2 separate regions of the Homo sapiens genome follow, and region 1 is linked to region 2. Evidence: fine-mapped expression QTL. A gene starts in region 2. The other region holds a variant in brackets. All regions are shown on one strand. Distances are from middle to middle. Region 1 overlaps EPS15L1 (epidermal growth factor receptor pathway substrate 15 like 1). Region 2 holds the start of EPS15L1 (epidermal growth factor receptor pathway substrate 15 like 1).

Evidence for each region.
Region 1: its variant is fine-mapped to the expression of EPS15L1 in whole blood (TOPMed, PIP 0.98).

The regions. Positions count from the first base shown.
Region 1 is chr19:16,348,997-16,358,187 of GRCh38, reverse strand. EPS15L1 (epidermal growth factor receptor pathway substrate 15 like 1) reads left to right here. Exons shown (of 24, transcript NM_001258374.3): 24 at 2,337-2,941. The coding sequence ends at 2,483. Among named protein-coding and RNA genes, the nearest start is that of KLF2, 29 kb to the right of the region's middle. The variant G/A (reference allele first, on the strand shown) is at 4,946.
Region 2 is chr19:16,467,308-16,476,498 of GRCh38, reverse strand. EPS15L1 (epidermal growth factor receptor pathway substrate 15 like 1) reads left to right here and starts at 4,529. Exons shown (of 24, transcript NM_001258374.3): 1 at 4,529-4,586. The coding sequence starts at 4,554. RefSeq lists silencers at 4,298-4,697, 4,758-4,977 and enhancers at 5,058-5,207, 4,440-5,351.

The sequences.
Region 1 (9,191 bases), 120 kb after region 2:
CAGACCCGTCAAGGGAAGGCGCTTCAGTGACACTGTGACACGGGGGCTCAGTGGGGCCAAAGGCGGCCAGAGGGCTGTGGTTCAGACCCAGCAGGCCGGTTACTTGGTCGTTCCAGGCTTTGATTTGGATCCAGGCGAACATTACTGTCAGCTCCCACCCACCCTGTCCTCAAGGCTGGTGGAGGGTGAGGTCCCCGTCAGCTGCACTGTCTCCCTCCCACTGTTGTCAGCAGCACCATGGAATAATTTCCACCTGCACTTGTTGGTTTTTCCTTGTTTTTCTCCCCATGAGGTGTTGGAAAATTCCCCAAACTGGGGCGGGGGGGATGCTTATCTGTGCCCCTGGCAGTGACACAATGGCGGGGAGGGAGTCCGACCTGGAGACTCATCAGACCCCCAAGTGTTTAGCTGGGCAGTGCCTCTTTAAGAAGTCAAGACTCAGCCCTTCCTCCCAGGGACATCTTTTCTTGATACTGACACTCCGCCTGTCCCCCATCTGGGTCCTGAGGCCAGCTAGAGGGAGGCCTCCAGGGCCCCGCATCCCCCTCACTGCCACATCTGCCTCCCAACCAGGTTCCTTGCATTTATCTGCTCCTGCACCTTGCCCAGTCCCCCCAGCCCTGCCATCTGGCCCTCCTCTCTCCTGCTTCCCGCTCATGCCACCATCAAGCCGTGAAATATCCAGACGCTGCCAATCTGATCACCCAACTCGCTCGCCCAAGGAGCCTCCACGGGGAAATCCCAGCTCCTTCCTGGGGCCCACGAGCCCCTCCTCAGTCTGGCTTATCCCACCCCACGCTTCATCCTGGCTACCCCAAGGTCGGGCACTGAGCCTCACACCCAGAACCTCGCAGGGACGCATCCTCCCTGTCAGTTTCACCTAGTATCCTGCTCCCCACAGGCCTGGGGGGGAAAAAGTCTAGAGTGTGAGCCACCCCTTCCCTGGCCTCAGTGTCCCCAGCTGTCAGAGGGATGAGATGACAGCGGGCCCACCCCCAGGTTGTCACGCAGACCTAGTGCTGCGTGTGGTGGAGAGGCCGTGAGTGTTCCTGTGTGCTTCTTTCCCCCACCTTCCTGGGTTAGTCTGCAGGGCCCTCCTCGAGAGCCTGGGTCCTTGGGTCCTGGATCGTTCTGGGATTGTTTGTATATTTCTGCTCCCAAGGGTGCCTGGGGAAGAGCCACTGCGCATGTTATCTTTGGTGTTACTCCAGTGTTGAGCAGAGAGCTGGTCAGAGGCAGTGCATCGCAGAGAGACATTAATAAGGGAATCCTTTGAATCCCTAAGCAGCAGCAGCTTTCCTGAGGGGGCCGATGATGCCAGTGACCTCTCAGGGAAGTCTGGGACATTGGGACCCACCCTGGGGGAGGAGCTTGTGGGATGTGGCTTTTCTTTTCATGACTAAAGTACTTTGAGTTGTTTGAAATCACCTATCTCAGCATCAAGATGGTTTTCTCCCTTTTTTAAGTTTTTATTTTAACTGAACATTTTAGAAAAACACCCCACGGATAAAAACTTGACTAAATGGCAGTGTAAGTGCCACACCTTTTGTCAGTGTTCTGGGAGAAATTGACCCTCAGAGCCGGGTGCGGTGGCTCACGCCTGTAATCCCAGCACTTTGGGAGGCTGAGGCGGGTGGATCACAAGGTCAGGAGTTCAAGACCAGCCTGACCAACATGGTGAAACCCCGTCTCTACGAAACATACAAAAATTAGCTGGGCATGGTAGCGCATGCCTGTAATCCCAGCTACTCAGGGGGCTGAGGCAAGAGAATCCCTTGAACCTGGGAGGTGAATGTTGCAATGAGCCGAGATCGCGCCATTGCACTCCAGCCTGGCGACAGAGCGAGACTCCATCTCAAAAAAAAAAAAAGAAAAAGAAAAAGAAAATGACCCTCAGAGGGTCTCAGAGCTCTCTGGAGCATGGCTGGAGGTAGAAATACCACATTCCCAGAGTGCAGAATTGTCTGCGCCGTGGGGCTTTAGAGCCATGCACGCTGGAAGTTCCCCATCTTTGCACCTCTTGGCCACCAGCGTCAAGGGCCCATCCTCACTTCTCTGCGTGGGGCGGGGTGGCTGGTTTCTTTGAGGCCCAGAGGTCATGGTTAAGGTCACACTCAATCACATGCATCCCGTCCACTCTGCTTTCCAGATGGGGGGCCTGAGACAGGCTCGCACGCCCACTGGGCCCAGCCAAGACATGCTTATCCCCTGCACATCGGACCCTCCGCTGGGCGGTGGGCAGGACCCTGACCCCTCCCACGCATTCCCTGCCTCCCTCCAGCTTGCAGGTCCCAGCCCCAGGGCCACATCACCCACTCTCCGTTTTTCCTTTGCAGTTTGGCAATGAGGAGCAGCAGCTGGCGTGGGCCAAGCGGGAGAGCGAGAAGGCGGAACAGGAGAGGCTGGCGCGGCTGCGGCGGCAGGAGCAGGAGGACCTGGAACTGGCCATCGCGCTCAGCAAGGCTGACATGCCTGCCGCCTAGGCGAGGGCCGTGTGTAGGCGGGACAGGGCACGGGCGGGTTCCAGAGAGGGGGCAGTGCAGATGTCTATATATACACACACACACCGTCGCCACCGTACTCCAAGGACCGGGACTCGGGGGCTTGTTCAGGGTGAGCAGACTCGGCTGCAAGACCTGGAAAGGTCACATCTCCTGGGGAAGCCCTTACAGAGGCCTTGGCCACCACTTCTGCAGGTCCGTCTCTCCACTGTGCCATCCCCCCCGGGGCTGACTGCCTCCCGCTCTTCCTCTGGGGACGAACACACAGCGGTCAGTCGAGGAGAGGAAGCACCCAGGGCTTCCCCGCCTCCTCCCTACTCATAGCTGCAGACATCCCCACCCGCCCTCCCACGCATCAGTCAGACACTCCCCCAGTGGTGTATGCACTCGTTGTATAAAATGAAGTTTGAATGATTAATATAAAATATTTTAATACAAAACAAGAGAAGCTTCTTTAATCTCTGTAAACATTGTTTTCCCTGCATGGGTATCAGGAAGCAGATCAACCAGGTGGAACATTGCTCTTTAAATCTTAAGTTTTTACTTTTAAAAAAAATTTTTTTTTAAGAGATGAGATCTTGCCATGTTGCCCAGGCTGGTCTCAAACTCCTTGACTCACACAATTCTCCTGTCTCAGCATCCCAAAGTGCTGGGATTACAGGCGTGAGCCACCAAGCCCTGCCCATTTTTATGTTTTAACCAACTTTATTTTTTAGGACAGTTTTAAACCTGCAGAAAAATCACAAAGATACAAAGAGTTCCCATAAGCCCCTTAGACAATTTATCCTTAAAAAAAATTTTTTTTTGAAACAGGGTCTGAGCTCTGTCACCCAGGGTGGAGTGCAGTGGTGTGATCTCAGCTCACTGCAACCTCCACTTCCCCGGGCTCAAGTGATCCTCCCACTTCAGCCTCCCAAAGGGCTGGGATTACAGACATGTGCCACTGTGCCTGGCCAGTTTTAAATTTGCAGAAAGATCGCAAAGAAAATACGAAGGGTTCCCATAAGCCCCTTAGAGAGTTTACCTTATTTTTAACATCTTACATTACACATTACTTACATCCCAATTAATGAACCAATACGGATTCATTATTATTAACTAGAGTCCTTACTTTATTCAGAATTGCTCTGTTTTTTTGGCTGAGTGCGGTGGCTCATGCCTGTAATTCCAGCACTTTGGGAGGCCGAGGTGGGGGGGATCACTTGAGGTCAGGAGTTGGGGACCAGCCTGGCCAACATAGTGAAACCCTGTCTCTACTAAAAAAAAACAACACAAAAATTAGCCGCGCGTGGTGGTGCGCACTTGTAATCCCAGCTACTCGAGAGGCTGAGGCAGGAGAATCACTTGAAACTCAGGAGGTGGAGTTGCAGTGAGCCAATATCATGCCATTGCACTCTGGCCCAGGCGACAAGAAAGACACCGTCTAAAAAAAAAAATGCAGGTAGGGCACGGTGGCTCACACCTGTAATCCCAGCCATTTGGGAGGCCGAGGCAGGTGGATCATTTGAGGTCAGGAGTTCAAGACCAGCCTGGCCAACATGGTGAAACCCCGTCTCTACTAAAAATACACAAAAAATAGCCGGGTGGTAGTGGAGCATGCCTGTAATCCCAGCTACTCGGGAGACTGACGCAGGAGAATCGCTTGAACCTGGGAGGTGGAGGTTGTGGTGGGCCAAGATCGCACCTCTGCACTCCAGTCTGGGCCACAGAGTAAGACCCTGTCAAAAAAAAAAAATTCGTTTTTCCCCCTAATGTCCTTTTTCTGTCCCAGGATCCCCCATGACATTCAGACCTTACATCTCGTTAGAATTCTCTGGGCTGGGTGGAACCCCGTCTCTACTAAAAATAGAAAAATTAGCCGGGCGCAGTGGCAGGCGCTTGTAATCCCAGCTACTCAGGAGGCTGAGGCAGGAGAATCGCTGGAACCCGGGGGGCAGAGGTTGCAGTGAGCCGAGATCACACCGCTGCACTCCAGCCTGGGCGACAGAGTGAGACTCTTGTCTCAAGGAAAAAAAAAAGAATTCTCTGGGCTGTGTGAGTTTCTCAAACGTTGTGTGTTTTTGATGACAGTTACAAGGAGAACTGGTCAGGTGCTTTGTAGAATGTCCCTCCACTGGGATTTGTCTGATGTTTTTCCCGTGACTAGATGTGGAGCTGGACTTGGGGGAGGAAGACCACAGAGATGAAGTGTATTGACATCAAATCACATCAAAGATCCATGTCATCAACATGACTTAGAAGGCTGGTGTTGACCTGGATCCACTGGACATAGATTTATTTTTATTTATTATTTTATTTTATTTTGGGACAGAGTTTCACTCTTGTCACCCAAGCTGGAGTACAATGGTGTGATCTCAGCTCGCTGCAGCCTCCACCTCCCAAGTTCAAGCAATTCTCCTGTCTCAGCCTCCCAAGTAGCTGGAATTACAGGCATTAGGCAACAT[G/A]CCTGGCTAATTTTTTGTATTTTTAGTAGAGATGGGGTTTTGCCATGTTGGCCAGGCTAGTCTCAAACTCCTGGCCTCAGGTAGATTTATTTTTAAAAAGCAGTTTTTCAGCCTCAGATATTTTGTTACATAGACTCGTCTCAGGGCAGTAATTCATGAGATTGAAAATACAGGGCCGGGCGTGGTGGCTAACGCCTGTAATCCCAGCACTTTGGGAGGCCAAGGCAGGTGGATCAAGAGGTCAGGAGATTGAGACCATCCTGGCCAACACAGTGAAACCCCGTCTCTACTAAAAATACAAAAATTAGCTGGGCATGGTAGTGGGCACCTGTAATCCCAGCTACTCGGGAGGCTGAGGCAGGAGAGTGGCTTGAACCCGGGAGGCAGAAGTTGCAATGAGCCGAGATCGTGCCACTGCACTCCAACCTGGTGACAGAGCAAGACTCTGTCTCAAAAAAAAAAAAAAAAAAAAAAAAAAGGCCAGGAGCAGTGGCTCATGCCTGTAATCCCAGCACTTTGGGAGGCCGAGGTGGGAGGATAACTTGAGGCCAGGAATTCGAGACCAGCCTGGCCAATGTGGTGAAACCCCATCTCTACTAAAAATACAAAAAATTAGCCAGGCGTGGTGACAGGCACCTGTAATCCCAGCTACTCAGGAGGCTGAGACAAGGAGGATCGCTTGAACCTGGGAGGCAGAGGTTGCAGTGAGCCAAGATCGTGCCACTGCAGTCTAGCCTGGGCAACAGAGCGAGACTCCATCTCCAAAAACAAAAAAAGAAAATCCTCAGGAAAAGGAAGAGAAAAAATATTGGCCATCCATTAAGTGGAAGTGGATCATCATAAAGGTCTTCTTCCTCATCATCTTCCCATTGAGTAACCCGAGGAGGAGGAGGAGGAAGGGTTGGTCTTGGGGTGGCAGAGGTGGAAGAAAATCCACATACAGGCAGGGCACAGTGGCTCATGCCTGTAATTCCAGCACTTCAGGAGGCTGAGGCGAGTGGATCACCTGAGGTCAGGAGTTCGAGACCAGCCTGGCCAACATGGTAAAACCCCGTCTCTACTAAAAATACAAAAATTAGCTGGGTGTCGTGGCAGATGCCTGTAATCCTAGCTATTAGGGAGGCTGAGGCAGGAGAGTCACTTGAACCCGGGAGGCGGAGGTTGCAGTGGGCTGAGATCGCACCACTGCACTCCAGCCTGGGCAACAAGAGTGAGACTCGGGCTCAAAACAAAGAAAATCCACATATGACTGAACCCACCCAGTTCAAACCTGTGTTGTTCAAGGGTCATCTATAAACCATAAACTGAAGTTTATGGTGGATTTGGGCGAATGTAAAGATTCCAAACCTTTGGTAATCCCCCTTTTCCAGGTTACAGACCCTCGAGGGGTCCCTGCAGTCCTGGAGATGAGGGTGTTGGGAGGGGACGTCTTCTTGGTGCCCATGGAATGGGCCTGCTTTGTGGATTGGGGCCTGGTGGGGCCTCGTGGGCTTTGTAACCTCTGAGATGCCCCTAATCTTCTCTGCAAAAACGAGCAGCTTCCTGAAAGTGGTCATGGCCGGAGGCAATTCCCAATACTTCCTTCCTCCTGCAGGAAAACCCCAGAGTGAATCTGAAGGTCCCAAGCCATGTGCTTCTGCCGTGATAGATCCCTTTGGAGAAGGCGCTGAGTCACCTCTCTCCAGGGTAGTCACAGCTTTGGCACCATTTGGTTTGGGACTTCACAATTTTCACAGCGATTCAGCTTCCATTATCTTGTTGGAAACTCAAAGCAACCTTGTAAATGAAGAGGGTGGATGTTAGCCCATTTTCCTGAGGGAAAACTGAGACTCATTCCCTGCAGTCATTTGCCCAGAGCTCCGAAGCCAGCCAGGGGCGGAGGCTCGTTTTGCTGATTTGAGAAAAGAATTGAGGGTTTCTTAGAAAACTTCAGGGTTTCTAGTTTCTTGTTGTCTTCTGCTTATTTGCATATTCACCGTACCCAGAAGAGGCAGGTGATGGCTCTTGATATCTTAGAAATGGAAAACCATGTATTGAATTAGGAGCTCTTACCCAGGGGAGGGGACGTTTTTAGGGAAAGCAGTGAACCCCTGAATGCACATTTGCTGGTTTTTTGTTTTTGTTCTTTTTTTTTTTTTTTTTTTTTTGAATCGGAGTCTTGCTTTGTCACCAGGCTGGAGTGCAGTGGCGTGATCTCAGCTCACTGCAACCTCTACCTCCTGGGTTCAAGTGATTCTCCTGCCTCAGCCTCCCAAGTAGCTGGGACTACAGGCACACGCCGCCATGCCTGGCTAATTTTTGTATTTTTATTAGAGATGAGGTTTCACCATGTTGGCTAGGATGGTCTCGATCTCTTGACCTCGTGATTCGCCTGCTTCAGACTCCCAAAGTGCTGGGATTACAGGCATGAGCCACCGCACCCAGCCCTGGTTTGTTTTTTATTGTATGTGGGTTTGCAGTGTTCATAACTTTTTATCTTTTTTTTTCCCCTTTTTTAAGAGATGGGGGTCTCGCTCTCTCACCCAGGCTGGAGTGCATGGCGCAATCATAGCCCACTGCAGCCTTGAACTCCTGGGCTCAAGTGATCCTCCTGCCTCAGCCTCCTGAGTAGCTGACCACATCCGGCTAATTTTTTTTTTTTTTTTTTTTTTTTTTTTTTTTGAGACGGAGTCTCGCTCTGTCACCCAGTCTGGAGGGCAGTGGCACGATCTCGGCTCACTGCAAGCTCCGCCTCCCGGGTTCACGCCATTCTCCTGCCTCAGCCTCCTGAGTAGCTGGGACTACAGGCGCCCGCCACCACGCCCAGCAAATTTTTTTGTATTTTTAGTAGAGACGGGGTTTCACCGTGTTAGCCAGGATGGTCTCGATCTACTGACCTCTTGATCTGCCCACCTCAGCCTCCCAAAGTGCTGGGATTACAGGCATGAGCCACCGTGCCCGGCCCTGGCTAATTTTTTTTAATTTTTATTTTATTTTTATTTTTATAGAAACAGGGTCTCACTATGTTGGCCAGGCTGATCTCCAACTCCTGGCCCCAAGTGACCCTCCCGCTTCGGCCTCCCAAAGTGCTGCTGATGACAGGTGTGAGCCACTGTGCCCAGCCTCCATCTGATTTTTAAAGAGGTCCTCAGACCCTTTAAAAAGTTAGAAGCCAGTCTCAAATCCTGTTTCCTTCCTTCCCTGCTACACACACACACACACACACACACACTCCCCTGCTGTGTAAATAATCAACATCAAATCCACAAATCCATCCCCTCTCCCATTGGCAGTCTCTTCCACGGCAAAGGACACTCACGCCCTTTCCTGAAGAATAGAGTATCCAATTGGAACAAATGTATGATGAAAATTTCCAAACATAATAGTTGAAGAGAAAAGGACAGTAAACACCCCCACCCAGCGTCAACTGTCATCCAGATTTTCCACCTTTGCCGCATGGCTGTCTTCCTTTGCTCTGGAGAAGCACTTTAGAGCAAGTTGGAGTCAGGATGCCATTTCGCCCACGTGCCCTGAAGCGCACGTCACTGAGACGTGTGGCGACTGACATGCTAACGTATACTCGATGCCAAGGTCACGTCTGAGAAAATGAACAATGACCCCTCCTAGCCATCAGATCTTTCACATAAGAGGCAACTTTTGATTGTTTTTTTTCAAATGGTTTCTTTCTCTCTCTCTCTCTCTTTTTTTTTTTTTTTTTTTTTGAGATGGAGCCTTGCTCTGTCTCCAGGCTGGAGTGCAGTGGCGCGATCTCAGCTCACTGCAACCTCCACCTCCTGGGTTCAAGCGATTCCCCTGCCTCAGCCTCCCAAATAGCTGGGATTACAGGCACCTGCCACCATGCCCGGCTAATTTTTTGTATTTTAGTAGAGATGGGGTTTCACCATGTTGGCCAAGATGGTCTCGATCTCCTGACCTCGTGATCTGCCTGCCTTGGCCTCCCAAAGTGCTGGGATTAGAGGCGTGAGCCACCGCGCCCTGCCTCTTTTTTTTTTTTTTGAGACAGAGTCTCTCTCTTGTCACCCAGGCTGGAGTGCAGTGGCGCAATCTCCGCTCACTGTAACCTCTGCCTCCTGGGTTCAAGTGATTCTCCTGCCTTGGCCTCCCAAGTAGCTGGGATTACAGGCACCCGCCACCATGCCTGGCTAATTTTTATACTTTTAGTAGAGACGGGGTTTCACTGTGTTGGCCAGGCTGGTCTCGAACTCCCAACCTCAGGTGATCCACCCGCCTTGGCCTCCCAAAGTGC
Region 2 (9,191 bases):
CAAGATAGTGATGGGAGTGACCTCTGGTGGTCCTCACTGCTACACTCCCACCAGCGCCATGGCAGTTTACAAAGGTCATGGCAACATCAGGAAGTTACTGTATATGGCAGCCTGAAAAGGGGGCCGGGCGCGGTGGCTCACGCCTGTAATCCCAGCACTTTGGAAGGCTGAGATGGGTGGATCACGAGGTCAGGAGATCGAGACCATCCTGGCTAACACAGTGAAACCCTGTCTCTACTAAAAATACAAAAAAATTAGCCGGGCGTGGTGGTGGGTGCCTGTAGTCTCAACTACTCGGGAGGCTGAGGCAGGAGAATGGCGTGAACCCGGGAGGCGGAGCTTGCAGTGAGCCGAGATCGCGCCACTGCACTCCAGCCTGGGTGACAGAGCGAGACTCCGTCTCAAAAAATAAATAAATAAATACATAAATAAGTAAAAAGGGAAGGCATGAATAATCCACCCCTTGTCTAGCATATCATCAAGAAATAACCATAAAAATGAGCAACCTGGCCAGGCACAGTGGCTCAAGCCTGTAATTCCAGCACTTTGAGAGGCCGAGGCAGGCGGATCACTTGAGGTTGGGAGTTCAAGACCAGCCTAACCAACATGGAGAAACCCCACATCTACTAAAAATACAAAATTAGCTGGGCGTGGTGGTGCATGTCTCTAATCCCAGCTATTCAGGAGGCTGAGGCAGGAGAACCACTTGAACCCAGGAGGTGGAGGTTGTGGTGAGCTGAGATCCCGTCATTGCACTCCAGCCCTGGCAACAACAGTGAAACTTCTCCCAAAAAAAAAAAGCAACCAGCAGCCCTTGGGGCTGCTCTATGAAGTAGCCATTCCTTTATTCCTTTACTTTCCTAATAAACTTGCTTTCACTTTACTGTATGGACTCGCACTAATTCTTTCTTGGGTGAGATCCAAGAACCCTCTCGGGGTCTGGATCAAGACCCCTTTGCGGTAACAGTACAAAGGGTCTGATTGTGAGAAGTGGCAGGGATCACTGGAACTCCACTTCAGATCCCATCTGGATCATCAAAACATCAACCCTAAATAAATAAATTCAGGAAATATGGTTAAATATAGAGTTTAGTTTAGCACAAAAGTTTGAGGACGGCCACCCTGGAACACAGATTCCAAAGAATGGAAATCAGCATTCCAAACTGAGGAAGTTTGGGGGTCATTTATATAGGTAAGGTTTGGGAAGCTTGACAGCGTTTCTACATATTTCACACAAGGCAAGTACATAGTTAACAGTAATCTGATTAGTCAAGGCAGTGGTCTTTTTGGGAAGGGTATATTTAACATTCACATAGAGGACATAACAGTCACAGGACCTTTTGCACTATCTGGTCTGATTTAGGTGCAAGATAATAGAGGAAAGGTCAGCAATGAAGAAGGGCGATCTTAACGCTGATGCCATTTAGTCTTGAAATGAATCTACAGAGCAAGAACAGGAGAGTTAATCTATAATCTATAAGCAGAAGTTGTAGTTACATGCTGTCTGGCTCAGATCACACAGTCCCGTTTTCTTCAAGGCTCAACATAATTCTTAGGGTTCAAAAGTGTATGATTAAGTTTGGATTTTTTTTTTTTTTTTTGAGACGAAGTTTCTGTGTTGCCCAGGCTGGAGTGCAGTGGCGCGATCTCGGCTCACTGCAAGACCCGCCTCCTGAGTTCATGCCATTCTCCTGCCTCAGCCTCACAAGTAGCTGGGACTACAGGCACCCCCCACCATGCCCGGCTAAATTTTCGTATTTTTAGTAGAGATGGGGTTTCACCATGTTGGCCAGGATGGTCTCGATCTCCTGACCTCATGATCTGCCTGCCTCGGCCTTCCAAAGTGTTGGGATTTCAGGCGTGAGCCACCATGCCCGGCCTTTTTTTTTTTCTTTTTTTTCTTCTGAGACGGAGTTTTGCTCTTGTTGCCCAGGCTGGAGTGCAATGGTGCGATCTTGGCTCACTGCAACCTCCCCATCCCAGGTTCAAGCAATTCTCCTGCCTCAGCCTCCCGAGTAGCTGGGATTACAGGCACCCGCCACCACGCCTGGCTAATTCTTGTATTTTTAGTAGAGATGGGGTTTCACTGTGTTGGCCAGGCTGGTCTCGAATTCCTGACCTCGTGAACTGCCTGCCTCGGCCCTCCAAAGGGCTGGAATTACAGGTGTGGGCCACCGCGCCCAGCCAAGTTTGGATTATTTTTACAAGATGATGCTGGAGAGTTTCTATGGCCACCACCATTCTAGACTCTGATACTGGCACTTAAAGCCTGCATGCTACATTTCCTGGACGCCGTTGCCAATTGGCAACGTTCCTGTCATGCTTTATTAGAACAAAGTTGGGAGGCAGAAAGAGGGGAGAAACCATTTTTTCAGACTTCTGCCAGTGGCTTAGGTGGTGGTGACAACAACAACTGTGACTTTCGCAATCATGGTGGAGGCAACTGTGGCTAGCAAGGGTGAACACATCTGGGATCCTTCTGTAGGCACAGTGATTGTGGGTTATGGGTCCTCCTGTGCTTTATTTATTTATTTATTTTGAGACGGAGTTTCGCTCTTGTTGCCCAAACTGGAGTGCAGTGGCGTGATCTCAGCTCACTGCAACCTCCGCCTCCCAGGTTCAAGTGATTCTCCTGCCTCAGCCTCCCGAGTAGCTGGGATTACAGGTGCCCACCACCACAACCGGCTAATTTTTGTATTTTTAGTAGACACGGGATTTCATCATGTTGGCCAGGCTGGTCTCAAACTTCTGACCTCAGGTGATCCATCCACCTCGGCCTCCCAAAGTGCTGGGATTACAGGCGTGAGCCACTATGCCCAGCCACCTCCCCTGCTTTAATCTTTCAGCTCTAGAGAGGCTAGCAGCCTCATATAGTTATGAATCTTTAGGTAAACTTACCTTCCTCTTTTGTTCTTCCAGTACTTCCAACACTTTTATACTCAGTCCCCTGTAGTCGTTTATGTATTCATTTATTTTTATTTATTTATTTTTTAGACAGAGTCTCGCTCTGTCACCTAGGTTGGAGTGCAATGGTGAGTTCTCAGCTTATTGCAACCTTCCCCTCCCAGGTTCAAGCAATTCTCCTGCCTCAGCCTCCTGAGTAGCTGGGATTACAGGCACCTGCCACTGCACTGGGTTAATTTTTGTATTTTTAGTAAAGATGGGGTTTCTCCATGTTGGCCAGGCTGGTATCAATCTACCTGTCTCAACTGGATTGCTGGGATTACAAGTGTGAGCCACAGAGCCTGGCTCAATCCCCTGTATTCAATATCCTCTGTTTGAAGTACCTAGAAGGACTTCTCTTTTCCTTATGGAATACGTACTGATAAAGCACTCAAGACTGTTAAAAACCTTCATTACTCTATTGATGTAACAAAAGAAGCTGAGGCAAAGTTAATATAAGTAGAGAGTTTGGGCCAAGGTTGAGGACCGCAGTCCAGGAGACACAGATTCAAGTTGCCCTGAATGTATGCTTTGATTAGCAACAGTTACAAGTGGGTTCTTTTTGTTTTTGACTTTGTTTTGAGACAGAGTCTCACTCTGTCACCCAGGCTGGAGTGCAGTGGTGCAATCTTGGCTCACCGCAACCTCCACCTCCCGGGTTCAAGTGATTCTCTGGCCTCAGCCTCCTGAGTAGCTGGGACTACAGGCATGCACCACCACACCTGCTAATTTTTGTATTTTTTTTAGTAGAGATGGGGTTTCACCATATTGATGTTTCACCATACTGGCCAGGCTGGTCTCCAACTCCTGACCTCATGACCCTCCCACCTCGGCCTCCCAAAGTGCTGGGATTACAGGTGTAAGCCACTGTACCTGGCAACAAGTGGGTTCTTGTCTTATTTATTTATTTATTTTTGAGACAGAGTTTCGCTTCTGTTGCCCAGGCTGGATTGCAATGGTGTGATCTTGGCTCACTGAAACCTCTGCTTCCTGGGCTCAAGCAATTCTCCTGCCTCAGTCTCCTGAGTAGCTTGGATTTCAGGTGCCCGCCACCACAGCCAGGAGGACGCCTTGCGGGGCAGGGTGAGGGGGGCAGGGTGCGGGTCCCCCAAATTAGCGCGCACACACACACACACACACACACACACACACTGCGATCCTAGGAACAGGGCGCTTTGCGGGGCAGGGTGAGGGTCCCGACCCTCCGCGGGGTGGGCGACCGCCTCCCCAGGCGCACTGGCAGGGGGACGGCATCCCTAACAGAGAACCAGGCCTCGGCATGGGCTGGAGGGATGACACAGCATGGTCGACTCGGACAGCGGCCAGCGGCATGAGAGTCCGAACAACGTTGGAAGGAGGAGTAGGGGAACGGGCAAGAGAGCACGGAAGACGCAGATGCCTCAGGCCCAGCCCCTCCAGGCTGCGTGTGGGCGGCCCCGCCCCTGCCCCCGCCCCTCCCGGCCTGACTGCACATGCGTGGCCCTGTCTACGGCCCCGCCCTCTCCCGGGACAGGCGGCCTGCGCACCGCCCTCCCGTCGTCCCAGTGCGCACGCGTGGCTGCAGCCCCGCCCCCGTTCCCCCGGCGCTCGGAGCCCGAGTCCGCGGGAAGATGGCGGCGCCGCTCATCCCCCTCTCCCAGCAGGTACGGGCCGGGCGGGCCTGGGGGCGGCGCCGGGGTGCGGGGCGCGAGGCGAGCGGTGCGGCGAGGCTGAGGCGCTGGGAGACTCAGCCAGGCGGCGGCGGGGGCGGCGCGTGCTGAAGGGCTTGCGGCGGGCGGGTGGGCAGGCGGCCCTGAAGGTGACAGGCCGGGACCCGCGGCCTCCCGTGCCCGAGCGACCCTCGCGGGCACCGGCGAGGCGAGGAGGTGCGCAGCGCGTGTCCTCTCCGCCCAGGGCCCGGACCCTGCCGCCGCTGAAGCTCCCAGGCCGGGGACCCGCGGAGGCGCTGGGCTGCATCCCGGAGGGGTGGGCGAGGGGTGCGAGCGTTTCTGTCGGCGCGGCGGCCCAGCGAGTCTTTGTCTCCCTCCGGTCCCGGCGCCCGGGCGGGCAGGGTCCCGCCGGAGCCCGGACCCGTCAGCAGCAGTGCGATCTCAGACTGATCCCCTGCCTCCTTGGAAGCTGCTTCCGCCACCCCTGCACCGGGCGCAGATCGTACGTCTCCGGGCGCCTCTCTGTGTCCTCAAATTCGCCTGATGCGCTTATGAAGGGGCAGTATCGATAGCGCGACACAGACATGCGAAAAAGAGCCATGCGTAGGCAGCTCTGTTATTTGGGAGAGACTTTCATTCATTCATTTTCTATCCATCCCTCAAATGTGCGTTGGGTCAGGTGCTGGGAGCGCTGCATTCTTCCAGACAGACAAGGTCGCTGCTTTCCTGGAGGTGACACTCGTGGGAACTAGAAACTACCTGTGTTATGCTAATCACAGCTGCCTTTATTTGCTGAATACCTGTGTTGTGCAAAGCACCATATAAGCATTTTGCTAGAATGATCTAGCACAGCATGGTGATTAAGAGTGAGGACACAGGGTCAGATCATGTGTTCAAATCTTGGCTCCAGCCCCGATTTCTCTGTGCCTTTGGTTGAAGCTCTTAGCCATTCCACCCATCAGTTGCTTCCTTTGGAAAATGGAGATATAAAAATGTGTTGGGATTATGTGAAAATTAAGCACGTGAAAAAGCGCTTAGAACAGTGCCTAGCATATGAGAGGCACTCAGTGATCCTATAATTACTGTCATCATTTAATCTCTGCCAGATTTGGACGTTTGGGAGTAGAGACCGCAGCAATTAAGAATTCCAAACCCAAAGAGAGTTGATAGGCCGGTTGCATGCTTGCATGACTGGTTAGCTGATCCAAGGAGAGAGAAGTGCACAGCTAGCCAATTTGCAACACTGTCACTAAGTTAACAGTGCTAAAACCCGGTGATTATTAATTAGCAAGTTCTTGTTACTGACATGAAAGTGCTCTGTAAACTGTTAAGTGTCCTACCGATAATAGGTGTTAATAGCTAAGTGCTACAGTTTAGAGTATGTAGTCAGGGGGTGGGGGGCGGGGAAGGCGGGAGTCGGGGGAAAATCACCTAAGATCATTTCATGAGAAAGCACTAAGCACTCCCAGTTTGGGAGGCGTGGATCTTTCTAAAACTTCCTGTCCAATTTTTTTTTTTTTGAGATGGAGTATTGCTCTGTCACCCAGGGTGGAGTGCAGTGGCATGATCTCAGCTCACTGTAACCTCCGCCTCCCGAGTTCAAGTGATTCTCCTGCCTCAGCCTCCTGAGTAGCTGGGACTACAGGCACGTGCTACCACACCCGGCTAATTTTTGTATTTTTTTTTTAGTGGAGACGGGGTTTCACCATTTTGGCGAGGCTCGTGTCAAACTCCTGAACTCGAGTGATCCACCCGCCTTGGCCTCCCAAAGTGCTGGGATTACAGGCGTTAGCCACTGCGCCTGGCCAGGTCACTGACTTCTTAGCCTCTTCCTGTTCCTTTCCCTATACATTTGTTGAATGAAGGCGTGGCCTGGTTTTCTTCGTTTGGAAATGTCAGCACTTCTTTACACTTGCTCTCGAGTGAAAATCTACACCATGGGTTACTGTTGGCCCAGGTGTGAGGCATGGCCCTCCCAGGCCCTTACTGTCTAGCTCAGGAGATCACTTGGGTTCACAGATAACTCTGGGGGAACCAAGGGTATAATTCCAAAATTTTTGGTTGGGGGCAAAAGGGAAGCACCCTGCAGCAGGTGGCTGTGATCTGGTTGGATTTAGGTGACAGAGCACACTTGGCAAGCAGATGGCCAGGTGAAGGTGAGCAAAGTGGATAACCCAGCGGGCTAGCCTAGGGGAGGAGGGGTGTGTTTTCTCCACCCCCACTCCTGTCTGCACTTTTCCCATCAGCATCTTTTTCAGTCTGTTCTGTACTCCATGACATCATCTCAGAATCTCCTTCCTTATATACTCTTTTCTGACCCTGAATATCAACGTAAATTCGAAAGGTCTGCACCTCTGCCTCTTTAGGAGTGATTTTTTTTTCCCAACAGCATCTCAGTGATTTGTGTGTCTCCCTGTCCCCCTGCTCAGCTCTCTTCTGCTTTCCAAAAAGCCTTCCGTGGAAATGCATCCAGATCTCTTTCCTCCTTGTACTCCCCGAGGTTACCGGTGGCCCCTCCGTCCTTAACCCCGGTGCCCTGTGGCTGCAGCCGATCCTCCTCGAACTCCGCAACACTGGAGCCCGTCGGTCTTCACTCTTCATCCTCTCTCCTTTCAGTCTCTCCTTCTTGTCCCCTAATTTCAGCCTCCCTACCTGCATCTTATCTCTCTGTGCGCTCCCTCCCCTGGAGCTTCTGTGCAGAGGACTTCAAACCTGCCTTCTAGAGTCCAGAAGGTGTCTCTCTCCTGCACCTCTGCCAGCCTGCTGGACTCTGGAATGGGCCATTTCCTTGCCATGCCCCAAAGTGGTCTGGGCCATTCTACTTCCTACTTGCCCACTCCCTCCCACTTAATCCCACGCCACTGTGGAAGTCATCTTTTTGATTTTTGAGACAGGGTCTCGCTCTGTCCCCCAGGCTGGAGTGCAGTGGTAGGATCATAGCTCACTGCAACCTCAAACTCCTGGGCTCAAGCAATTCTCCCACCTTGGCCTCTCAAGTAGCTGGGACTACAGGAGCGCAGCACCAATCATACCCAGCTAATTAAACAATTTTTTTTTTGAAGAGATGAAGTCTTGCTATGCTGCCTAGGCAGGTCTTAAACCCCTAGCCTCAAGCAATCCTTCTATCTCAGCCTCCTAAAGTATTGGAATTACGGTGTCAGCCACTGCATCTGGCTAGGATTCATCTTCTAAAACATATTCCCCTGTTCCAAAAACCTTTCACAGCTCCCATTCCCCTTCCTCCAAAAGAACTCAGTTTATGGCTGGGCGCTGTGGCTCATGCCTATAATCCCAGCACTTTAGGAGGCTGAGGTGGATGGATTGCTTGAGGCCAGGAGCTCGAGACCAGCCTGGCCAACATAGCAAAACCCTGTCTGTACTAAAAATACAAAAGTTAGCCAGGCATAGTGGCAAACGCCTATAATCCCAGCAACTTGGGAGGCTGAGGCACAAGAATCGCTTGAAACCAGGCGGCGGAGGTTGCAGTGAGCTGAGATCGCGCCACTGCACCCCAGCCTGGGCAACAGGGTGAGACTCAGTCTCAAAAAAAGTCAGCTTTGATGACCTTAGTAAGCCCTGAATCGACTCCACCTAACCTTGCTGGGTCCCTTTCCTGCACTTCTGGCTCTTGGCAACACTTTCTAGCCTCAGCATCCTTAGCTGTGTTGCTCCGGTTGCTAGAACATCACTGTGAGCTCCTGCCGTATGCTGCCTGCCCTGAAGGACGGTCTTTGAGGCCTCCCCTGTGTTGTCCTCCCTTAGCCCCACCCGAATGAGAGTTCTCTCCCTTGTACCTTCCGTGGGTCCCTTTTGTGACCGCTGTACCTAGGAAGCGCGTGGTAACTGGGCTCAGTGATGAGGAGAGACTGCCCTGGGCCCAAAGAGCTACACCTTCCTCCTTTCCCCCTTGTTATGTGTTCTTCATCCAGGAGCTTTTGCTGTATTTCAGTAGGTGCCTCCATTCTAGGAGGCTTTTATTCCCCTTTTACAAGTGAGGAAACCAAGACCCACAGAAATAGAGTAACTTGCTGAAGTCTCATAGTTGGTGGGCGCAGAGCTGAGGTCACACCTGCGTCCTCCTGCCGCAGAGCCCTGCTGTTCCAGATGGCCTGCTGGGCACCTCTCCCAGAGCAGCACCCGGCCAGTGTGTCTGGAATGAATGCTGAGTGGCTCGGACACTTACTTGTCCTCTTGTCCCTTGTTTCTTTTCTTCCTCTGAAATAAGTGCTAGTCTATCTTAGTAGAATGCTAATGGCAATGCAGTCTAAATTGATGAGAACGAAGTTTTAGAGTAAAATCCACTCCTGAAAGATCCAGAATTCCCTGACTGTCACTTATTGACCTGCACTGGCCTGTTTTTTTTTTGTTTTTGTTGTTGTTGTTGTTTTTTCGACTAAATAGATTCTCCCTGGGCAAGACCCCTCCACCTCCATTCTGAACTTTAAAACAACTTTCCAGGCCGGGTGCAGTGGCTGACGCCTGTAATCCTAGCACTTTGGGAGGCTGAGGCAGGTGGATCACCTGAGGTCAGGAGTTTGAGACCAGCCTGGCCAACATGGTGAAACCTCATCTCTACTAAAAATACAAAACATTAGCCTG